7 linked regions of the Homo sapiens genome follow. The protein of the gene in region 6 interacts with the protein of the main gene of each other region in a biochemical or structural test. Each region holds a gene or a part of one and is shown on either strand. Other genes may lie near its edges.

Region 1 (3,500 bases), on a different chromosome or scaffold from region 6:
ATGAATTTAGAAATGGAACTCTCAGCACTGACTCCAAAAACTGAACTCTGCATCTTTCCGGCAGTGATGGACATGCCTCTTCGCAGCCACTTACTTCTGTCCTGAGGCGTGTTGTCCTGGCTAATGTCCCCCTGTGGTTCTAGGCACACGTCACCAAGTAGTGCTGAATCACTGTAACTTCCATGCCACTTCCAGGAGCCTTTTGGAAACACATTCAGAATGGCTACACTTCTCGGTTTCTCTATTAATAGGATTTTTCTCTTTCTTCTTTTTTTTTTAACGGCAGAGAAGGTGGAGAAGGAAAAGATGAAATGACACAAGGGTATCTCACTTCAGATGACCCAAAGGCCTTGGAGCCCCAGGGAAGGAGCAAGGGGTATGAGTCTCGTGGAAGCTCATCTCTTGGAGATGAACATGTCACCCCTGTGGTCTCCCGGGGACTTCAGCAGCCAGTACAAAGCTGAAACACAAAGCAACCAGGCTCAAGATGGATCACATCTATTCGATGCCAGCCTTGGCTTTAACCATCAATAATTTAGGAAAAAGAAGTAGCTCATAAGGAAGCCTCCCCAGGCTTTAAATTAGGAATGAGGTGACCACAACCTCCTCAAAGACTTGTTTTCTTAGAAAAATCCCAGACCATTCTAGTTAAAAGGAGCCTCAGAGATCAACTGGCCCAATCCCCTCACTGCCGAGGCTCCGAGAGGTCGAGGGAGCTGTTACCTGGTCAGGTAACACCCCAGGAAGGGCCAGAGCCGCTTGCCCTCAGCCCCTCCGCCCCAGTTGGCCTTCCAAGGAACCCTCACCCACTGCCAAGCTTACTTCTTCTTCAAATTAAGCCTGACCAGAGCTATTTATTCACTTGAAATATAAGCTCATGGAAAGTCTGATTTCTGAATCCAAGGCATGAAACTCATCCAGGATCACACAGCTCCAAACGGAGAATCCAGCCCCAAAGCGGAGGCCATCAGGCTTCTGACCACAGTTAGCTCATGGTGCCCGCCACCATCACTTACTCAATGCAGTTATTTTAAGTTCCAATGCAACCCATTTACAGCTCTCTCAGTGGAATGAAGTAACTCAAACACTTGGTTTTTGAGCTTGTTAACTTCCTAATTTTATGAAGCCTTAATATTTTAACTCTTTAGCAAAACCAACAGAGCAATAAAAGAAGGCAGCCGACCAGAGCAGGCAGAGACTCATAAACTGCTCAAAAGACCTCCAAGTTTCCAAGTTTCAGGTGACTAAAAGCTGGAGACTCACAAATGTTTCCACCCACCCTGCCCTAAGATGAAGCTCAGGTCCCTGGCACACTTGTTTTTTAACTGACAAAAGGTGTATTTGAATTGCCAATAGTGAAAATGACTCTCGAGCAAACTGCCCACTTTAACAATGGAAAAATACAACCCCAGGGAAGCAGTGATTGTATTTTCCCCCATTGTATTGAATATAAGTTACCTGTGGGCAGTGACTTTGTTTTATTCAACCCTGTCTCCCCAGAGCTCAGTACAGGGTCAGCACTCAGCTAGCAATGATTGCTTGTTTGAGGTTCCCACGAAAGAGTCACCTAAATAAAGTACATTTTGGCACGGGTGCAGTGGCTCACTCCTGTAATCCCAGCACTTTGGGAGGCCAAAGCGGGCGGATCACAAGGTCAGGAGATGGAGACCATCCTGGCTAACACGGTGAAACCCCGTCTCTACCAAAAAATACAAAAAAATTAGCTGGGCGTGGTGGCGGGTGCCTGTAGTCCCAGCTACTCTGGAGGCTAAGGCAGGAGAATGGCATGAACCCGGGAGGTGGAGCTTGCAGTGAGCCGAGATCGCGCCACTGCACTCCAGCGTAGGCGACAGAACGAGACACTGTCTCAAAAAAAAAAGTAAATTTTACAAACATTCCAGGGCTCCAAGAAGTAAAGCAACCATCTAAGCCCTTGGTTCTTCACCAGGTATGTACATACAGCCTCTGCCTTTAGAGGCTCTGGGGTGAGACCAGGAGCAGGCGATCCTAAAAACCTCCAGGGGTGGAGTTTCTGGGCACCCCTGCAGCTTGCAGACCTCCAAGCTTGTCTGGGCTGCTGCATGGAGTAGGGTGGGCTTTCCTGGAGGATGTACTAGCAGGAGAAATGGATGAGGCTTCTGCTGTTTGGGAAGTCTGTTTCAGGTCTCGTTCCTGGCTTCTTGTCCATGTTTTAGCAGAGGTCCGGAATCCCGGCTGGTCTTTTGGGACATGGGGGAATCTGGAAGGGCTTTCTCTCTTCAAGAGCAGTTTGTCTGGATCTCTGGCTTGGAAACAGCCTTCCTACAGTCCCTCGGCTCTTTTTGCTTTTCTTTAGTGAGGGCTGCACTGACGGCAACTGGAGGCAACCTTGTCTTCAGGCTCCTGAGCCTGCAGAGTGAAGGCTGTGATCTGTCCTGTTCCATCTCTAAGCCACAGCCATCTGGAGCCCTGTTTATTTCAGCTATTAGCTGGGGCTTAGCTGGGGTTGGTTTAAAATCTCTGTTGCTCTGTCAACAGCACAGCATGGTGGTTATGAACGAGGCTCTCCATCCAGTTGTGTGGGACCACCAGTCCTGAGCAAGGTACTTCTCTGTGACTTAGCTGCCCAGCTGTAACCCAGGGAAGACTACAGCACTCACTCATAGGACTGTCCGGAGGATCAAATGAATTAGTATGCACCCGGCATAGAATAAGCACAACATATATGTTAGCCCTCATTATTAGTACCCTATTAGTATTTCAATTCCTTTCTTTTTTGTAATCATCTGACCAGTACAGCTGGAGATGACAGATCTTTGTTCTCTAGCTGAATTGTATACTTTCCCATCCAAACCCTGCCAGTGCATTGACTTCTGAAATAGATGATTTGCCTTCATTTCCAGAGCGGTGAGCAGAGATGTTCTCTGAGGTCTATTCAATAAACAGCTTACAGATGAAAGTGCTTTCCTTTGAATGGTGACATGTTCCTCTATCCAAAGATCTACTGTGACCCAAAGTGCTAGTCACCTCCCTGGGGACCCCTGATCTGATGACATTTCTACCTCTCATCCCCTGGCATGCTCTGCCCCAGACAAAGCCACCTTATAATATTTGAAATCGCAGCACCCGCTCCTGCCTCGAGAGCTCTGTCTCCAGATCCGTGTATGACTTGCTCCAACTCCAGGCCTCTAGTCAAGTGGCACCCCTAGAAAAGGCTCATGTCCATGGCAGCTAAAGTGACTCTCCCGCCAATCTTCCAGCCAGAGCAGGCAGCCAATTCACCTCATTTAACAGTGACGTCAAGTGACCTGCCCGTGGGCACCAGCTGTTGAGTCCTGGAGCCTGGCTTGGACTGAATGAAGTCTGCTGGCTCCCAGGCGCCTGTCCTCGGAAACACCTCCGAAAAGTCAAGGGTGGAGTGTGAGATCCAGAGAGGGGGCGCAGCAAAGCAGTGCCTTCCACTAAGGAAAAACAGAATGGCTGTGTATCGCAAGCACCTCCCGTTTGTCTTCATTCATTCA
Region 2 (3,500 bases), on a different chromosome or scaffold from region 6:
ATCTGTTTTCTTGCTCTCTCCCTCATCCACAATAATGGCACAGCCCAGACAGGGGATGCTCCTTGAGCCAGGGTTCCAAAATAAGAAACGTGAAGCAATGCTGCAGTCAATCCACAGCTGACAAGGTGTAGCATAAGCAAGAAGAAAAGCAGTGTTGTAAGCCACTGAAATTTGATAGTGTTGCTACAGCAGCATAACCTAGCAAAAGAAGACAGATACACTTATTATGGAGTAGGTGCAAAAAATAAAATTATAGGCTGGTATATATTTTTAAATGTTTCAGAAGATAAACCAAAAAAATTAACTATTGTTACCTATGAGGAGAAGGTATGAAAACTAACAGGTGTGTAGGAATACTTTTTTTTATACCATTTTATATGATTTGAATTTTCTGTGTGTGTATGCGTGTGTGCGTTTAACCTGAGCAGCAACATCTGGGTAGTTGGATCATTTGGGCCATTTATTTTTCTTCCTTCTGCTTTTCAGTATTAAAAAATAAAAATATAATAAGGCTACCGATAATTACTTAAAAATGAATAAGAACTATTCTTATACCCTTGAAGAACTCACGTATTAGCTAACAATTTAGCTTTAAATAAAGCCTTCCCCCATTCATTGTTAATTTTTTTAACGTCCAAGGCTAAATACTGTATATATATATATATTTAGGAGTATGACATACGCCATTTCGTTTTTTTTTTTTTTTTTTTTGAGACGGAGTCTCGCTCTGTGCCCAGGCTGGAGTGCAGTGGCGCGATCTCGGCTCACTGCAAGCTCCACCTCCTGGGTTCATGCCATTCTCCTGCCTCAGCCTCCCCAGCAGCTGGGACTACAGGCACCCGCCACCACACTCGGCTAATTTTTTCTATTTTTAGCAGAGACGGGGTTTCACCGTGTTAGCCAGAATGGTCTTGATCTCCTGACCTCCTGAACCGCCCACCTCGGTCTCCCAAAGTGCTGGGATTACAGGCGTGAGCCACTACGCCCGGCCTGTTATATGCATTTCTATCAGTTTGCTCACTTTCAGGTTTCAGCAAAGCAATATAGTGTTTTGTATATGGATGGTACAGTTACTAATCTCAAAGGAAATTCTCACAATTTCATTATTTTAGTATGCCAGTTAAATTGGCAAAGAGGTTTGCTCTAGTTACAGTTGTTCAAGGGAGAGAATACAGTCATGGGTTCTTAGTTTCTGTTTCTGGATGGGCCAGTAAAGCCCCTTCCTCATCCCTCTTTCCGTTTTATCACTAGAGACAGAAACTAAAAACCATGGCTTCAGGCTGCTGAAAGCCTAAAACAAAACAAAACAGAAGAACAACAGCAAAATAAGGCAGGTTGGACAAGCTTGCTAGGTGTTAAGTTTGGTAAATATGCCTTAACCAGTACTAGAGCAAGGAATCTATTAAGGAAACTCTTCTAGGGTAAAATCATAAAGGAGCATTGAAAGAAAGGAAAAAAAGGGGAAAAATTCTAATCATGACTCTTGTGGTGATAAAACAACACTTGAATGGTTACAGAAATCAAGTTTAATAGAGTAACACTTTACTACATGAACAAGTTTTAACTTCAAGAGAGCAATATCTGAACATAGCAGTAACCTGCAAATGACTAAGAACATGTCTGTACTTTTCATCCTAAGATCTCAAAGCACTTCACAAACATTCATTTAACTCTCATATCACCTGAGAAGTAGTGATATAATAATACATCATTATAACCATCTATCCTGCCAATACAAAATATTTAAATACCTCTTCAGCAGCACTTGCCCTAAGAAGGTCTTGCTAAACAGCCAATAAAACAGGAAATAGGCTGACAGTGCATATGCCACCAACAATCTCTGAAAAGATCAGACCTTCACCCACAAGAACCACTTCCTCTCAGTAAACCACAGAGACTGTACTGGGCAAACCACAACATATCGGCTTGTGTCTGGAACATAGGCAGATAACCCATCTAAAATCTATGGAAGGGTATGTCTAAGCACCTTCACAGGATTTCTTGTGTTAGCAAGTGTATTTGGGGTATCTGTTACTCTTCTGGATAACATATAGCCACTTTCTGCATTACAAGATCAATTTCAGGTATCATTCCTTCAGAGGCTGATGAAGTCTCCAGTTTTTTTTTTTTTTTTTTTTTTTTTTTTTGAGACGGAGTCTTGCTCTGTCATCCAGGTAGGAGTGCAGTGGTGCAATCTTGGCTAACTGCAACCTCCGCCTCCCGGGTTCAAGTGATTCTCCTGTCTTAGCCTCCCGAGTAGCTGGGATTACAGGCATGTGCCACCTGGTCCGGCTCATTTTTGTATTTTTAATAGAGACAGGGTTTCACCATGCTGACCAGGCTAGTCTTGAACTCTTGACCTCAAGTGATCCGCCCACCTCAGCCTTCCAAAGTGCTGGGATTTACAGGCATGAGCCACCGCGCCTGGCCAGTTTTTCTACAACAAAATAATCTACATTTTTTTGAATCCATAAAAGATCTACAAAGTCCTCTTTGATCTTTTGAGTATATGAATGTAAAATCAACATTTATATGTAATATTTGACAAAAACTGTAGTATCAGAGTGTACCTTTAAATGACTCTAATGTGTTATATAACACCAAAAGAAAAAGCAGTGTGACAAGCAGCTAATTGAAAGCATTAACTAAAACCAGGCTCTCTTATATAGTTCCAATTTCTGCATGAATTGTTACTTGCAGTCCAAGACAGGAAACCTACTTTTCATTGGCCAGTAGATTTGCTTGTCTCTAGACACTGAGAAGCCACCCAGGCCTGTCATGTGACTGTGATCTCAAAAACCAGGACTCAGCATTTGAATTAGTAAAAGATCCTGTTTCGGTATGAATCTAAACTGCATTGGTGCATGCTAATTCAAGAGGTAAAGTTAGTGTATTTTTTCTTTTACTAAAAGTCGACACTATATACTCATGCAATTTAGGCACAGCCTCTGACCAGGCACTAGCTTCATAGGCTTCTATTGGAGTTAGAAGCTGTCTTATAGCGGTCTTCCCTATATGACTATCTTGATGATTCCAGATATTCTAAGTTGAAAAAGTAAAATGCTCTAAATTTGGCATGTTTGCAAATTTTAGTATTACCAAAATACAAAATATTAATATTAGCAAAATACAAAACAAGGACATCTATCTCAATAATTTGAAACTAAAATAGTACTAAAGAAAATATGCTAATAAAGTATTCAAAAGGTCTACAGTCTTACAGATTTTATAATAATCTAAATATGCACTTTTTCTGTTACACTGTCTTGTCATTAACAATTCTTGTAAATACAACAGCAAGAAAGTAAAATATTTCAATTTTCACAATATCCATTTTACTGAAAAAAAAAATACTGCTAAGCATTGTTATTTCACTAACATGTGGAAATAAGAGGAGACAAAACAATAAGGTAAAAATAAACCAAACATCGAGGAATGTTTTGACCTACAATTTAAGATAACGAACTGAAAAACCACTGGAAAAAATAAGAAACAACTTC
Region 3 (3,500 bases), on a different chromosome or scaffold from region 6:
ACCAGCATTTATACATGTTATGTGGCTGCTGCACTTCACAGATAGAAAACTTGAAATCTATTACCTAAGTAATAACGGCTTGAACCATCTTAGTGGGTTTCTCAGATAAGAAGACTTCAAGTATTCACTGGACTGTATTCATTTTCATGTGAACATTATAGATGAGATTTTAGCCCTTATTATTGATTTAGTATTGTTCCTATCTGCATAAAGTGCCTTTTTTCTCTTCTTGCATAAAGTTATTCTAGCCTCAGGGTAATGAGGACATTTCTCTCCAGGAGGTAGAATATGATGTGGCAAATGTATCTGCATATCCAGAAATGCTTTATAAAGCAGCTGCTTGCTCTGAGCACTCATTGTGGTGGAAGCCAAGTTAAATGAGGTGTGCTATAATGTAATAGCATTTTTATTTGTTAACAAACAAGAAATTTACATACCTCATGCAAGCCTTTCTCTCTTGGCATTTAACCCGCATTTAATTTATATATATATATATATATATGTTTTAATTATATATTTTATATGTGTGTGTGTATATATATATATATATATATATATATATATATATATATACATATAGTTTTTATTTTTTTTGAGATGGCATTTCACTCTTATTGCCCAGGCTGGAATGCCATGGCACGGTCTCAGCTCACTGCAACCTCCACCTCCTGGGTTCAAGTGATTCTCCTGCCTCAGCCTCTCAAGTAGCTGGGATTACAGGTGCCCACCACCATGCCTGGTGAACTTTTTGGATTTTTAGCAGAGACAGGGTCTCACCATTTTGGTCAGGCTGGTCTCGAACTCCTGATCTCAGGTGATCCACCCGCCTCGGCCTCCTAGAGTGCTAGGATTACAGCCATGAGCCACTGCACCCAACCAACCATATGTTTAAGTTAACCATTTTTGTGTCTGCCCTCCACTAGACTGAGTACCTTGCAGACAGGATATGTACAAGTACTTGGAAAAATTCACATTATTCTCAATCTTCCACACCGAATGTTGGGCAGGGTGAGACAATGAGGTGTCTATTTTTTCCAACCAACAATTCTGTTAGTGCTCCAGACTTGGGTTTGCATGCTCCTAGCACTAAACTATTGGGCAAGTTAGTTAGTGTGAGTCTTCTGTAAAATGCAGCTGATAATACCTACCTCAGAGATTTGGGAATTTCTTCTGACAATTGTGTTCAGAGATGGTTTTTAAACTTCATGAGAACAGACTCAGTCACATAACATACGGCTGCATGTCATCTTTGTGTGTTACATCAGGTATTTAACTGAGAGAACATATGTAAAATGTCCAGTCCAGTAGCAGACACTTTGTAAGGGGCTAGTTAGTATTAGTTATTGTAAACACTCAATGATGACCCTATATATCGATTTTTATTTACTCTTTGCAGTGATCTTTTTCTGACTTTAGAAATCCAGCATCCCCTACCTTCCTCTAAAACCTACATACATTAGTTTCCTTTTGTTGGATTATGGCCATGCTTCCTATATTAACTTCATATTTTTCTTCTCTTTCTACCAGGGCAAACACTGTATACTTGATGTATCAGGAAATGCTATCAAGCGGTTACAAGTTGCCCAGCTCTATCCCATTGCCATCTTCATAAAACCCAGGTCTCTGGAACCTCTTATGTGAGTAGAGGGCATTGGAGGCCTTCATCCAACTGACTCCCTGTTCTGTATTATACTGAAAATTACTAACAGGATTTTGCTGGGAATGCTTACAAATGGGAAATGCCATTGTTGATTTTTCAGCATTCTCTTTTTTTGAAGATATATCAAAGTTCTTTTAAACAACTAGAAACATAATGTCAGTGATTTCTTTTTTTAACATCCCTCATTTTAACAATAATAGTAATTCCTTAAAACATCTTCAATAATGTTTCCTGATTTTTATTGTTTTACTTCACGGATTGTTTTCTTTGTTAGTTTTTGAGGTTTTGTTGTTGTTGTTTTGAGGATAGCTTGGCTTGATTTGGTTTTTTGGTTTGCTTTTGTTTTCCAAATGATAGGAAGCAATCATTTTTTAATTGTCTCATACTTCTGAGGCAGGTCTATAAGTAAATCTTTTTAAATGTGTAGATTTTTTATAGAGAGAGCAGACAACGTTTGAGACTTTTTTCATTGGCATTTTCCTTGGTTCTCTAATAGAATTCTGATGTTCCTTAATTAAAACTTTACATACATAGAACATCGTTCTTAATAGAGTTTTCTTAGTGGCGTGGCAGTAAAACATCTGTAACTTAAACCAGTAGCTTCATACCTGTGCACTCAGGGTTTTTTCTTTTTTTTTCCCCTCCAAAGGACTTGTGAAATAACTTCTTTCAAGAATCATTAAACAAAGTGGGCAGACATTCACGATCTGACTGTAAAGTCAGTATAGGCAACTCCCATTCACAAAGGTGAAGCTACAGTAGATAGAGGTAACCAGAAAAGGGGCTACCAGCAGGGACCTGAAAATTGATCAGGCAAGATTTGGTTCTTTACTTTGCCACTGATCAGTTAAGTAACCTTGGGCAAATTGCTTGACCTTTCTAAGATTTAGCTCCTCACCTCGAAACGAGGCATACTAATAAATACCTCATAGAGCTAGTATAAAGGTTAAATAACAAGATTAGGAATTTAGTAAAGCTGTTCATGTACTCTTTGGCATATGGTAAGTACTCAATAAATAATACCTATTATTATTGTAAAAGATATAAAATTACTTCATTATAAAGGAATAAAACTATTTTATCATTATAAAACACATAAACAGTACCTCTTCCATGACAGTGCAAGAGATAATGCCAATGTGTCTGTCATGAGGGCCTTGATCAAATTTTGCCTTCATCTGGGCCTCAAGACCATAGTGTTTGACAGGGTTCAGGAGTGAACCACAGAGTACTGGAAAATAATGTTTATGGAAGGACCGAAGAAACAGAAATTATTTAATCCCAGTGGTGAAAGCAATTGCTTACAGAGGATATTAACTGTTCTGTGTCTCCTCTGAAGACAAAGAAGCAAAGCAAACTGCAGCAGCTGGAGTGGCAGCCTGAGAGAATTAAGTTAAATACATAGTTGAGCTCTGGGGAAATAGCCAGAGATGTACCTTGAAAGCAGAATATAGTCCCATATATAAAAAATGGACAAGGATTCTTACCAGGATAAAAAAAGTAAGATCGGGAGGTCACTGACAGTACCTTCAGCCCCATGAATTTAGGTATTAAATTATAATATAAAGAGTTTTTCCCATGGCTGGCACATGGAAAAATATGTACTAATGATAAAATAATGATTCTTAATATTATCATCCCCAATAGCATGTATTAAATTTCTCCTTGTATAGGATACTATGTCGGGCATTGCACAAAGTGAATTAAGCAAGTACAAATTTCATGATGTAAAATTGATTTATAATCTGTCAAGAGCCTCATAAATATAAGTAATGCTAACATTAATGAGAAGAAAAATAGTCCTTACTTCCTGGGAACAGCCATCTTAAAGGCCTGTTTC
Region 4 (2,465 bases), on a different chromosome or scaffold from region 6:
TTTTTTTTTTTTTTTTTTTTTTTTTTTTGAGTTAGAGTCTCGCTCTGTCACCCAGGCTGGAGTGCAGTGGCACGATCTGGGCTCACTGCAACCTCGGCCTCCTGTGTTCAAGCGTTTCTCCTCCCTCAGACTCCCAGGTAGCTGGGATTACAGGTGAGCACCACCATGCCCAGCTAATTTTTTTTTTTTTTTAAGGTATTCTTAGTAGAGACAGGGTTTCACCACGCTGGCCAGGCTGGTCTCCGATTCCTGACCTCAGGTGATCCACGTCGGCCTCTCAGAGTGTTGGGATTAGAGGCGTGAGCCACCGCACCTGGCCTCCAGCCAACATTTTAACCTCTCTGTGCACCTGTTTCCTCATCTAGGACACAGGGTGGATGGTATCAGACTTGGTGGCACAGGGCGGTGGTGAGCACTCAATGTGCTCAGCCCAAGTTTTGGCACATAGTAGTTGCGTGTCTTTTTGAACTTGACCTATCTAATTTATATATTTTATTTTTTAAATTTTAGAGATAGGGTCTTGCCCTGCTGCCCAGGCTGGAGTGCAGTAGTACAATCATAGTTCGTTGCGGCCTCCAACTCCTGAGCTAAAGGGAGCCTCTCATCTCAGCCTCCGGAGTAGCTGGGACCACAGGCGCGCACCACCACCCACACCCAGCTAATTTTTTTTCATTTTTTGCAGAGATGTGGTCTTGCTATGTTGCCCAGGCTGGTCTCTAACTCCTGGGCTCAAGTGATCCTCCTGCCTTGGCATCTCAAAGTGCTGGGAGTACAGGCGTGAACCACAGCGCCCAGCTGTAGTTGGGTGTTTAACAGTAACAAATGTGTATGTAGCTCTTAGTGTATATGCCTCAGCATCTTCTTCCACACCCTCTCTAGGTCAATGTAAAAATCTATGAATCAATGACATCTCTGATTAGAGTGATTTTCCTGGGGTTGTGCAGTACCCAACCTGCTCAACTGTCCATGGCAGGCTGCATACGGAGCAGCCACTGTACTAAGTCCTTTACGTACATGAACTCATGGCTGTGGCCCTGTGAGGACTTGCACAGATGAGAAACCCAATTCCCCTTTTGCTGACAGGCTAGGAGGTCTCAGCTAAGGCCTTCCCCTATCCCAGCCTCAGTTTTCTCATTTAGATTTGGGGATGACCTGCAGACTTGTCACGGGGTTAGCAAGTGGGCAGCATGGCCCGGGCCAAGGTGGGGGATGGGATGGAGGTGGTTATTGATCTCGACTCACCATGCTCTGGGGGGAGTTTTGAAGCTCCTCTCTCCCTCTCCTCCAAGGTGGACAGCCGCCACCCCCAGGGACAGTGGCGACAGGACAGCATGCGGTAAGAACCCCATATTCCAGATTGGGGCCCTCAACCCTTCCCTTGGGACTCAGACTCTGCGGACTCAGATCTAGATCCAAGCTATGCCTTCATGGTGCCCCTAGCCTAGTGGGGAAGACAGAGCCTGCCAGAGCCTCTCTAAGCCCCATATAATCAGGGCCAAGGGAGTAGGAATCCACTTCCTGGGAGGCCTAGGAAGGCTTCTTGAAGGGCAGGATATTGCAGCTGGGGCTTTGAGGGATGCATAGGAGTTTGTTAACAAGGCCCTACCCATGAATGCCCAGATGTGCTTATCTCTGCCCACACCCACTGTGCCTAGCACAGCCAGCCTCAGTTTATGGTGAGAAAGCTCACACCCTTCCCACCCACAGCATCTATTCTATTTCCTGATCCCCAGAACCTATGAACGGGAAGCCCTGAAGAAAAAGTTTATGCGAGTACATGATGCGGAGTCCTCCGATGAAGACGGCTATGACTGGGGTCCGGCCACTGACCTGTGACCTCTCGAAGGCTGCCAGCTGGTCCGTCCTCCTTCTCCCTCCCTGGGGCTGGGACTCAGTTTCCCATACAGAACCCACAACCTTACCTCCCTCCGCCTGGTCTTTAATAAACAGAGTATTTTCACAGCACCGGCTTCTAGTGGCTTCCAGGAAGGACAAGGTCCTCGGTCCCGTAGACCCTGATCCGAGACTTTGCCAAATGCATAAGCTTTTACTGTTTTTATATTAGGAAATCATACAGGACCAAGAACCGCTGGGGTCCTGGCCAGCCAGGGCAGGCCCAGGATGGGGCTCCGGGGCCATGGAGGCGAAGGCACAGTGGCAGGCAAGGGATGAGGTGGTCACAGGTACACGGGCTGCTCCTGGCCTGTAAGGAGGCGATATGTGGCAGCTGGCATCGTCTTGATATGCACCTGGGGAGTGGAGGCGGAACGGGGCTCAGGGCAGGCCTGGGCTCGTGGGGGACGTGGGGGCGCCCCTGGCCACCACCCACCACCCGCACACCTCGCCATAGGCCTCGGTGAGCAGCTCGATGATGCGGGCGTGTGGCGTGGCCACCACACTCTGCCCATTGATCTCAATGATGCGGTGGCCGACGCGGATGCCCCCACGCTCGGCGATGCCACCAC
Region 5 (3,500 bases), on a different chromosome or scaffold from region 6:
AAGAAAAAAAAAAAATCTTGGTTTAATACATAGGACAGTAAGAAATCAGTAACTTTTTTATGAGCTTATTTTGTAGCACAAACCCGATTTTTGTTCCCTTGATATGAAGCTACAACTCTTCTGACTTTCATAATGACCTCATTTGCTGAGGATTAGCATCAAATGAAGAGGATGGCTAAGTTCTGATTTGCAAGGAGATAGAAGGGAAGTAATATATATTCAACTAGCCTTCCTCTGGAAGCCTTTGTTGAACACATGCAAACGGCACATTAAAGTACTTTAGAATGACAGTAATTTTTGCAGGGTTTGAGAGAAGCAAGCCATCTGGAAATTCTGAGCTTGATCACATTTGCAAACATTTGCTAAAATAGACGCTCAAGGAGGCAGACACAGGAAGGAGGCCTTTTCTGTGAATAAAGTGACAACGCACTGTCTGAAGGAATGAATGAAATACATACCCGCAAAAACCACTTTACGCCGCACCGTGAGATTGACGTGGCCTTGCTTGGCAGCTTGTTGCATAAGCTGGACCACAAGCTGGTGTGATTTTCCAATTACTGGCGTCCCATCCACACAGATTAATTCATCTCCAGACCTCAGGCGGCCGTCAGTATCAGCAGCACCCAGTGGTACGATGTGACCAATATAAATCTGTTGAGTAATTGAACGATGGATGAAACATTGCTCTCCTATGTTTACTGTTACATCAATAGCCTTCACATCTCTGGGAACAATTCATTCATTCATGTCTGCAGGCATGCCGCAAACATTTATTGAGCACCCACTGTGTACAAGACATTGTGCTAAGCACTGCAACAATTCTTAAATGGTGGAAAGAGTATTTCTTGCTTAGTTTCCAGATGTTTATCTGTGGCCTATTGATGACTCACTCTCTTTTTCCCCTTTGCAGATATAAATTACTTTTCTCCCTTCATTATATACCCTATTCTTCTTTGGTAGCTACCTAAAAACTCTCTTTCCATAAAACTCTGCTAATTAAAATATTAATATTACTTTTATTTAAGGGTCTAGCATCATGCCTAGGAATAGGGAATCTGTAATAAATACTCTTAAATGAATGAATGAAGCAAAAGTTGGTTGGACATCTCCATTTTTGAAGTCTTTTAGCACCCGAAAGCAGAGCACTCTTTATAGTTAGTGTCTTGCTGTTATATTTGCCATTCACTAAACCTTAGCTAAAATATTTGTGCCTGCCTTGCCTTTCCAGCAGACAATAATGCTATAGCTACCTTTACGTGGCATTTATAGTTTACAAAGAACTTTGACAAAATAGTTGCTAAGAACATGAACTCGAGTCAGACCTTATTTGTCAGTCCCTCCATTTGGTAGCTCTGCGATCTTGGGCAAGTTAGTTAGCCTTTCTTTTCCTTGATGTGAAAACGGGATAAACTGGTGGGTTTGACGGATAAATGAGAGAATGTATGTTAAGAGCCTTTAGCACAGAACCTGGCACATAGTAAGCGCTCGATGAATAATGGCTGTTATTACCACAAGGAAATTAACGATACCTATTTCAGTTTTCTTTTCTTCCTTCAAAGGAACCCTGTTATGTTATTCTAAATTTATTCCAAAATGGAGGACACTGAGGCCCAGGGAAGTTCAATGTTTCTTGACCCTTACTCAGGGTTCTTTCTCAAGTTTTGTAAAGGCAGGGGTCTGACATTCTCCAATCACTGTCTCATAAGGCTTTGCGAAGTACTCTCTGCACACCAGCAACTCAACATACAAAGCCTACTACCTGCTGGCAGAGTGAAGGGACCTGGCCAGAAGGACCAGGCCACTGTGATATTAGGTGATGCCTATTCCTGTTTTGCTTTCTGTTTTCATCTCCCTTGGGGGAAAAGGGGTGGTCTACAGAGGCAGCTCCCACCTTTCACAAACACTCATACAAACTTTTTAGAAAGAATCTAGTCTCTTCTTCCTCAAGACAAAGAGAGCTCCACAAAACCCAATGAGAAACCCACACTACTCAAGATTAAAGAGTCAGTGTTGCATCTAGCTGGACTTAAATCTTGGTGATTTGTCACTGTCGCCAATTTGCTTTGAAGCCTTAGAAAAATATGCTGGGAAGAGAGACAAGCAAAAGACTCACAGGTTCCCCTGGTTCATTTCCACCCAGAATCCTAAATCCAAATCCAGTCTCTTTTCTCCAGAGGAAGATGTCCTGTTCCTGGTAATCTGGAACTGCAGAGAGGGGAGAAAAAAGAGAAGGATTATTTTACTGATAAAAGCAATGATACCCCCAAGATGAACACAGTTGCAGGACAAGAATGGTGGTGCTTGATCAGATGGAAGATTTTCAATATAGGCAAAGAAACAAAATACTCTGAACAGGTGAAATAATGGAAGACACGGGGATAAACAGTGGGAATAGTCACTGAGCCCTAAAGTTCTTCACAGGACCCATCACTGTTTGATAATTCCGAATCAAGCCCAAGCCATGATCCTTAACTACAAATAGTCAGCATTAACTGCTTTCCTCAGTATTCTTGCAAGGAGAATTAAGTAAATTAAAATTATTATGTGCCACACCACAAAGCAGGTGTCCATGTCCAAGAACACTCAGGCTAAGTCAGAGTCACCTCTGAAGCCAGATCTAAGGATTCGGAAGTCATGTTAAGTCACCAGATGTTTCCTCTACTAGAGGATGAAAGAGAACAGCTTGGTTTAAACAGACTTTCTGATTTATCTTTAAGTCACTTTCTTCTTCCTTAAAATAATTAAGGCTAGCAATGCTAATAGGCTTTGTTAGATCATTTTTGCCAAAAATTACTCTAAAACATCCTAGTATTTCTGCATACAGTCAGTCCTCCATATCTGTGGGTTCTGCATCCTTAGATTCAACCAATCACAGATAGAAAATTTGTTAGACCTACAATGGTTTTAGCTGTGATGAATACGTACAGATTTTTTTCTTCTCGTTATTCCCTAAGTAATACAGTATCACAACTATTTACATGGCATTTGCATTGTATTAGATGTCATAAGTAATGTAGAGATGATTTAAAGTATATAGGAGGTGGGGTGCAGTGGCTCACAGTGGCACTCCCAGCACTTTGGGAGGCCAAGGCAGGCGAATCGCTTGAGCCCAGGCATTCAAGTCTGGGCAACATAGTGAGACCTTGTCTCTACAAAAAATAAAAAATGAGCCAGGTATGGTGGTGTGTGCCTGTACTCCTAGCTATTCGGGAGCTGAGGTGGGAGAATCACTTGAGCCAGGGAGGTTGAGACTGCAGTGAGCCATGATTGCCCCAGTGCACTCCAGCCTGGGTGACAGAGTAAGACCCTGTCTCAAATAAATAAACAAACAACAAACAAACAAATAAATAATATAGGAAGGGGTGTGTGTGTGTGTGTGTGTGTGTGTGTTACACACAAATATTAGGCTATTTTCTAGGGATTTAAGCATCCATGGATTTTTATATCCTTGGTGGGGGATGCGGGTGTCCTGAAACCAATCCCCAGCAGACACTGAGGGG
Region 6 (3,500 bases):
TCTGTATTCCTACTCTAGTCCTCCATTGCTTGCGAGTCTGAAATGATCGTCTCCACCTGTCAGTCATATCTTCAGGTTTATAATGCATCATTGGCAAAAGTGAACTAGAAGTCATAATCATTTTTCTTGGGTTTTTGTCTTTTTCTGGATCTTAGCCAATAGCAATTTCTATTTCATTAGCTTCTTAGGGCTTTTAGTGTTTTATCCATGTGTTTATTTGCCTTTAGCACAAGAGTCATTGCAAATTACTCAGTCTTTCATTACTAGAAGCTGATGCAACAATATTCTGTCTGTGTATTTCCTTTGTAAGCACCATAAAAGCTGGCATCTTTTTAGATGAACTCTTTGTGATGGCTAGGGCAAAATCTGTGAACTCTTGAATTTGTAAGTCAAACTTACGTAAATTCATTTTTGTCTTTTGGGACAAGCTTCACGACTTTTTATTCAAAGGTGTCTATGCTATACACAGGCAGAACAATCTACAATAGAACAATCTTAAAACTTAAATGTATTTGATCAATAAACCCAGAGTCAAAATATTTAGATGATATTAGTGAAGATTAAATAGAAGTCTTGATCTTGTTGCACACTTTACCTCAATCTTTACAAAAACATAAATATGAAGAAAAATTATTTACACCAACTGGAAAAGGAAAAAAACATGAAAGTAAAACCCCTAAAGTCCAATTGTTTAAATTTCTTGGCTTTAATATTAGCACTGTTAAGGCATTTATGAATACCTCAAATATAAGCAATAAATGATCATTTCTTTCCCTTTAAACTGCTACAAATCTTTAAAGAAACAAATTTTTTTTTCTTTTTGTATACCCAGAATTCAAGAAGACAATTAAAACTGAGAGAAAATAGTACATTTTAGGTGTCATAGCAACAAAAATTTAGACATATTTACTTGATGATGATTTAGATTGCATTATTAATTTTTCTACTGAAAAGGATAGGAATTTAGAATAAAAATACTAAGGTTAATATTCTGGGATACATGTAACTTTTCAATATAAGATTGAAATGTTATATTTTTAAAATTTAGACTTTAATTAGACTTTATGTCTTTCTCATTTTCAAAGCATTTTAAATATTTCAAACATTTTGTATCTGTGTTGCAGAATTCATTGGCATACTAATGCATAAAATAATTTAGCAGCATAAATGGAAACTTTATATTTACATATTAATACACATTACATTCCTTTCATTATTGTTAACCTAAATATCAGATAAATAGGTTAAGAATAATTACTAAATAAAAGAACCCGATCAAACGCAAATGTTACCAGTCGACGTCTGTACGTTGTTCACAGTACATAATCCGAAAGTATTGAGCATAGCCGCTGCAATTCTTATGGCCAAAAAGTTTTATTTACCTATAGAAATTGCCCAAACAATAGCAATCTTCATGATGGCCTTAGTCCGCGAATTGAAACGGCTATGCTCAATAGGATTACGTATTGCTACATACCGATCCAGCGATATAGCGCAGAGGTGCATGATGGACGCTGTTGAAAATAAAACATCTAAAGAAATCCAGACGGGGCACAAATATCTAGGTAGTGGCCAGACATAATCTGAAAGAGAACAGAGAGAAGACAAGAACACGTCATCCAAATTGTACTGACTATAGTCTCAAATTTTAGTCTGCTTATATTTTCTCATAATCTAAACCTTTTAAAGAAAGTGAAATTTAGGAAGCATTATTTTCTATAGGGATGATGATGGTGATCATGATAATGATACCTTCAGCGTGACATATATTTTATTGAGGTAAAATTTACACAACATAAAATTAATCTCTTTAAAGTGTACAATCCAATGGCATCTAGTACATTCACAATATTGTGCAACTAGCATCTGTCTCTAGTTCAGAAACATTTCATCACTCCAAAAGGAAACTGCATACCGTTAAGCAGTTACTTCCCATTCTCCCATCAACCAGCTCCTGGCAATCTCTAATTTGCTTTTTATCTTTTTTTTTTAATTATTATTATACTTTAAGTTTTAGGGTACATGTGCACAATGTGCAGGTTAGTTACATATGTATACATGTGCTATGCTGGTGTGCTGCACCCATTAACTCGTCATTTAGCATTAGGTATATATCCTAATGCTACCCCTCCCCCCTCCCCCCACCCCACAACAGTCCCCAGAGTGTGATGTTCCCCTTCCTGTGTCCATGTGTTCTCATTGTTCAATTCCCACCTATGAGTGAGAACATGCAGTGTTTGGTTTTTTGTCCTTGCGATAGTTTACTGAGAATGATGATTTCCAATTTCATCCATGTCCCTACAAAGGACATGAACTCATCATTTTTTATGGCTGCATAGTATTCCATGGTGTATATGTGCCACATTTTCTTAATCCAGTCTATGGATTTAACTAATTTGGATATTTCATATAAATAGAATCATACAATTTGTGACTTTTTGGGTCTGGCTTCTTTCACCTAGCTAATGTTTTTGAGGTTTATCTATTTCGTAGCATGTATCAATACTTAATTCTTCTTTGTGGCTGATGCTGTTATCAATTGAGGTTTTTTTGGAAGCTGTTGTAAATAGAATTGTTTTCTTAAATTCTTTCATGGATTGTTCATCACTGTGTATAGAACTACAAATGTCCTGCAACTTTGCTGAATTCATTTATTAGAGCTATGTTTTGTGTTGACTCTTTGGGATTTTCCATATATAAGATCATGTCTTCTGCAAATAGAAATAATTTGATTTATTCTTTTCCAATTTTCCTCTGCCTTTTATTTCCTCTCTTTGCCTAATTTCTCTACATGGAATTTTCAGTACCATGATAAATAGAACTAATGAAGTTGGGCATTCTGCCTTTTTTCCCTGATCTTAGAGGAAAATCAGTCTTTCACTATTGACTGGGTTTTGTTTTTGTTTTTTATAAATGCCTGTCAAGGACATTTTCTTTTATTCCTAGTTTGTTGAACATTTTTTTATCATAAAAAAGTGATGGACTTTTGCAAATGCTTTTTCTGCATCAATTGACATAATCATGTGGTTTGCATACCTTCATTCTATTAATGTGATACATTACATTGATTAGTTTCTGTATGTTGAATCCCTCTTGCATCCCTGAGATAAATCCCATTTAGTAATGGGTATATAATATGGTGCTGAATTTAGTTTGCTAGTATTTTATTGAAGACTTTTGCATTTATATTAATAAACAATACTAATCTATAATTTTCTTGTAATGTCTTTAGCTGGCTTTGATATTAAGATAATGCCAGTCTAATAGAATATATTACAAAATGTTTCTTCATCTTCTATTTTTTAGAAGAGTTTGAGAAGAATTGGTGTTAATTTTTGAAATGTTCGGTGAAATTCAAAAGGAAAACTTCTTGTCTTGAGCTTTCATTGTTGAGAGGTATTTGATCACTGATTCAATGTAGTTACTTTTTATATGACTCTTCAGATTATTTCTCCTTGAGTCACTTTTGGTAGTATGTGTGTTTTTAGAAATTTTTACAT
Region 7 (3,500 bases), 7.3 Mb from region 6:
CAGGTTGAGTAAAGTGCACAGGCAGAAGGGCTAGCTCAAGCAAAACCGTGAAGTAGGTGAGGTTTGTTTGGGGGCCTTTGGAGCACCCTCCCCTTCCAAGCCCCAGGGGCTTTCCATTTGTTGCTGCAGGCCATTTGAGGCCCCCACCCAGTGCTCTGCCTGAGAAGGCGGCATCCTGTGTCTGGTCTTTACCCTCCCCCCACCAACAGCCACTCAAACTTGCACTTCTCACCCAGGCCAAAAACTAAACTGGCACAGTAACTCTGCCTAAGGTGTTGAGGGTTGATTGGGTACTTCATGGCAGCCTCCCTCGTTAAGCAGAGATTTGCCTTTTAATGGGCACTCCAGCAGGTATGGCCAATAGAAATTTTAGCAGTGGTAGGTGGGTGGAAGAAAGATTTGACAGTGTATGAAGGAGGTGGGAGGGGACAGTGGGCTTTCAGTGTTCTGCAAATCCCAGTATGTAAATGGCTACCTCTCGGCCTGAAGGACTGGATTCCCTTAAGAGGTCTTGACAGATTCCTTGGAGCAATCAAGCTTGGGTCGTCTGGAGGCCCATTCCCTGGTATTAGCATCACCCTGAGGAACCTCTTGTGCCTGTCTATAGGCACTTTGATAAGTGGCTTTCCACCGATGTGCCGCACTAGCTGACAATGTGCTCCTGGGAGCAAGACAAGCACCTGGATCCAATTAGCAAGGTGATTTGAATTTCCTTTCACCAGGGTAAACTAGCCTGGGGCACAGTCTTAGGGTGGGACCAGCTGTGCCCTGCCCCAGAGCCTTGTTCCTGCAGCAAAGGTGCTGAGCAAGCAGGGGGAGAAGTAGAAGGACTCAGGAAACCTAGGGTAGGGGACTGTGGGAGTATGTGGAACAAAAATGAAATAGAGCAGGGGTTGCCTAACCATGGCCCATGGGCCAAATACCACCCACCACCTATTTTTTATGGCCCAGGAGCTAAGAATGGTTTTTAGATTTTTTAATGGTAGGGAAAAAAAATCAGAAGAGGCATGTTTTGTGACATGTGAAAAGTACATGAAATTCAAATTTTCGTATCCATAAATAATTATTGGTAAACAGCCACACCCATTTGTTTATGCATTGTCTGTGGCTGCTTTCATAATCTGACAGCAGGGCTGAGTAGTTGCCACAGTTGCCAGTATGGCCCGCCTGCAAAACCTAAAATATTTACTATCTGGCCCTTTATGGAAAAAGTATGCTGCGCCCCCAAATCGAGGAAGAGGAACAAAAAAAGGTCATGGAGGGATACTCAAAACAAATATCTCCTCCCACTTTATCATTTTGGCAGAGGCAGGGCCAGGGAGGTAAGAGGTAGAAGGAGGAGGAAGAGGAACGAAGGCCTTTAGAAATATTTGCCCCTCCTGCCCCCACACCCAAGGACAAGAGCCAACAAGGGGCTCCCTCCCCACATCCCCCAATCCTGCGCCACTGACCAGGCCTACAGTGTTGAACAAAACGCCCGTGAAGGTAGGAAGTTCATTCAGAATTCGTAGATACTGGAGCTTTGCCTGAATTGCAGAGCCCTGTGGAAAAACCCATCCAGAAATATGAGAAGCCTGAGGGGCACAGGAAAAGCAAACCCATGTTCTCAACGAGGAGTCTCAACATCCTAGGACAGGCACCAGTCAGCAAGTGACACTGTGGAGATGTGAAGATGCCCTTCTTAAAACAGCAGCAAGGTTCTAGTTTGGACAGCTCTTCCCTCTAGTATCTCATCTCCCTTTCTAAAATCTTGTCCTACCTCCTGATCTTCATTCCTAAAGTATCCAGCTTACTCATTTTGTTTTTGGTTTAATTCCAACTAACTGACGCCCCACCTAATCCATACCTCTCTCCTGAGATGTTTCAGACCCCTAGAGTCATGTACATGCTGGTCATTCCCCAGCTGGGGGTCCCACTCAATACCGTTCATACTAAGCATTCCTAAGTCCCAAGCCTGCACTTCAGGCATTCCTGGTCTATATCAGCATCCCCTGGGCAATCAAGCCAGAAACCTGTGAGTCACACTGGACTCCTCCTTAATCGCCTCATGTGAGAGCCAGCAGTTACCAGATCATCTGGATACTTACCCCCTAGCTCCTTTTCCAATCTATCCATCCCTCTTCTCTAGCCAGTCATTGCCTTGACATTCCCACCTGTGTCAGGGTGACAGCCAGGTTACCTTCAGGACTGACACTTGTTTCCCTCTTTCCCTCAAGTGCCTCCACACTGTTAGAGGGAGCATCCTAAAACATAAGTTTAATCACATCAGCTCCCTGCTTTAAACCCTTCAATGGCTCCCAGCTGCCTAGAGGATGAAGTACAACCTCTTTCCTTGGCACACAAGGCCCTCCATGAACTGGCTCCTGCCAACCTCTCTGGCCTCTTCTCTTGCCCCTATCTTCACCCCTTGCACACAGCTTGCATTTTCTGTACTTGCTTAGGCTGAATGATTTGCATTTCTGTCCTTGCACCATGGTTTCTCATATCTCTGGGCCTTTGTACAGATGGATCTCTCTGCCTGGGAAACACTTCCTCCCATGACCCATGCCCACGGATTAATCTAGACAAACTCTTATCTGTCTTTCAAGACCCAGCTCTGGCCTTTTCCACCTCCCTCAGGCTGGGCTTAGTGTTCTTCCTCTGTGCTTCCAGAGCACCTGTGCCTAATGCACTGTGTTGGGACTGACTAATGTGTTTCCCCATTAGACTGTGCCTGACTCAGGGGCCAAGACCAGGCCCTCTTCATCTTCATATTTCCAACCCAAGCACTGGGGTGCCTCGAAAAAAATGTTACCTGAGGAGATGGTGGTGAGCACTGATGCTCTCAGTTGAGAAGAAAACAATCTGATTAAATATTCACAGCAAGGTGGGAATGGCTTAACTCTCCGGGGAAATTTGCATCTTAAAAGAGAAGCTAGTTGGTAATGCAAGAAATCTGGAATGGGAGGAATGTATGGGGCGATTGCGTCCCATATGTACATCTGCATGCTGATTCTAGTGCGTCTCACCACTCTCCTGCTTCTAGGGCAGGAAGCACAGGCAGATTGAATCTTACAAAGCTAAGAAGCTGCTGCGGGGCTTGGGAAAGCAGACAGTGGGAGTCCCTCAGAGCACTAGAAAGTGGAGGCAGTAACCTGATCCCTCACCATTCCACCCAGTGACCCATTCTCCAGGTCAGGTCTTGTGCCCCCAACTCTCCCACTTTCCCCTGGGCTGGGGTTTTGTCTCCCAGAATTCCACACCCTAGGACTGATGAATTAGAGGTACAGAGGTACATTTCCTTTTTTTACATTTTTTTTAAATTATTTTTTTAAAAGTAAAGACGCTGTCTCACTATGTTGCCCAGACTGGTCTCAAACTCCTGGGCTCAAGTGATCTTCCTGCTTTGGCCTCCCAAAGCGCTGGGATTACAGGCATGAGCCACCACACCAGCCTAGTCATTTCCATGGAAAACATGTGCCTCCCTAGGGTCCAGTGCTTTCCACATGATACATGCTCAG

Evidence for each region.
Region 1: the proteins of HTR2C (region 6) and HTRA1 interact in a test that uses a peptide from one of them, tested with the Homo sapiens proteins (one large-scale study listed by IntAct).
Region 2: the proteins of HTR2C (region 6) and ARHGEF12 interact in a test that uses a peptide from one of them, tested with the Homo sapiens proteins (one large-scale study listed by IntAct).
Region 3: the proteins of HTR2C (region 6) and DLG2 interact in a test that uses a peptide from one of them, tested with the Homo sapiens proteins (one large-scale study listed by IntAct).
Region 4: the proteins of HTR2C (region 6) and TJP3 interact in a test that uses a peptide from one of them, tested with the Homo sapiens proteins (one large-scale study listed by IntAct).
Region 5: the proteins of HTR2C (region 6) and MAGI1 interact in a test that uses a peptide from one of them, tested with the Homo sapiens proteins (one large-scale study listed by IntAct).
Region 7: the proteins of HTR2C (region 6) and FRMPD3 interact in a test that uses a peptide from one of them, tested with the Homo sapiens proteins (one large-scale study listed by IntAct).

What each region holds. Positions count from the first base shown.
Region 1 is NC_000010.11:122,464,553-122,468,052, reverse strand, and holds part of HTRA1 (serine protease HTRA1 precursor), read right to left. Parts: intron 1-3,500. UniProt on the Homo sapiens protein: Serine protease with a variety of targets, including extracellular matrix proteins such as fibronectin. HTRA1-generated fibronectin fragments further induce synovial cells to up-regulate MMP1 and MMP3 production.
Region 2 is NC_000011.10:120,342,913-120,346,412, reverse strand, and holds part of ARHGEF12 (rho guanine nucleotide exchange factor 12), read right to left. Parts: intron 1-3,500. UniProt on the Homo sapiens protein: May play a role in the regulation of RhoA GTPase by guanine nucleotide-binding alpha-12 (GNA12) and alpha-13 (GNA13). Acts as guanine nucleotide exchange factor (GEF) for RhoA GTPase and may act as GTPase-activating protein (GAP) for GNA12 and GNA13.
Region 3 is NC_000011.10:83,464,845-83,468,344, reverse strand, and holds part of DLG2 (disks large homolog 2), read left to right. Parts: intron 1-1,527; coding exon 1,528-1,637; intron 1,638-3,500. UniProt on the Homo sapiens protein: Required for perception of chronic pain through NMDA receptor signaling. Regulates surface expression of NMDA receptors in dorsal horn neurons of the spinal cord.
Region 4 is NC_000019.10:3,748,849-3,751,313, forward strand, and holds the end of TJP3 (tight junction protein ZO-3), read left to right. Parts: intron 1-1,289; coding exon 1,290-1,336; intron 1,337-1,733; coding exon 1,734-1,836; 3' UTR 1,837-1,965; downstream 1,966-2,465. Other genes in the region: APBA3 (amyloid-beta A4 precursor protein-binding family A member 3), read right to left, coding at 2,057-2,249, 2,341-2,465. UniProt on the Homo sapiens protein: TJP1, TJP2, and TJP3 are closely related scaffolding proteins that link tight junction (TJ) transmembrane proteins such as claudins, junctional adhesion molecules, and occludin to the actin cytoskeleton.
Region 5 is NC_000003.12:65,381,419-65,384,918, forward strand, and holds part of MAGI1 (membrane-associated guanylate kinase, WW and PDZ domain-containing protein 1), read right to left. Parts: intron 2,206-3,500; coding exon 2,114-2,205; intron 652-2,113; coding exon 459-651; intron 1-458. UniProt on the Homo sapiens protein: Plays a role in coupling actin fibers to cell junctions in endothelial cells, via its interaction with AMOTL2 and CDH5. May regulate acid-induced ASIC3 currents by modulating its expression at the cell surface.
Region 6 is NC_000023.11:114,846,086-114,849,585, reverse strand, and holds part of HTR2C (5-hydroxytryptamine receptor 2C isoform a precursor), read right to left. Parts: intron 1,584-3,500; coding exon 1,383-1,583; intron 1-1,382. UniProt on the Homo sapiens protein: G-protein coupled receptor for 5-hydroxytryptamine (serotonin).
Region 7 is NC_000023.11:107,561,152-107,564,651, reverse strand, and holds part of FRMPD3 (FERM and PDZ domain-containing protein 3), read right to left. Parts: intron 1,542-3,500; coding exon 1,452-1,541; intron 1-1,451.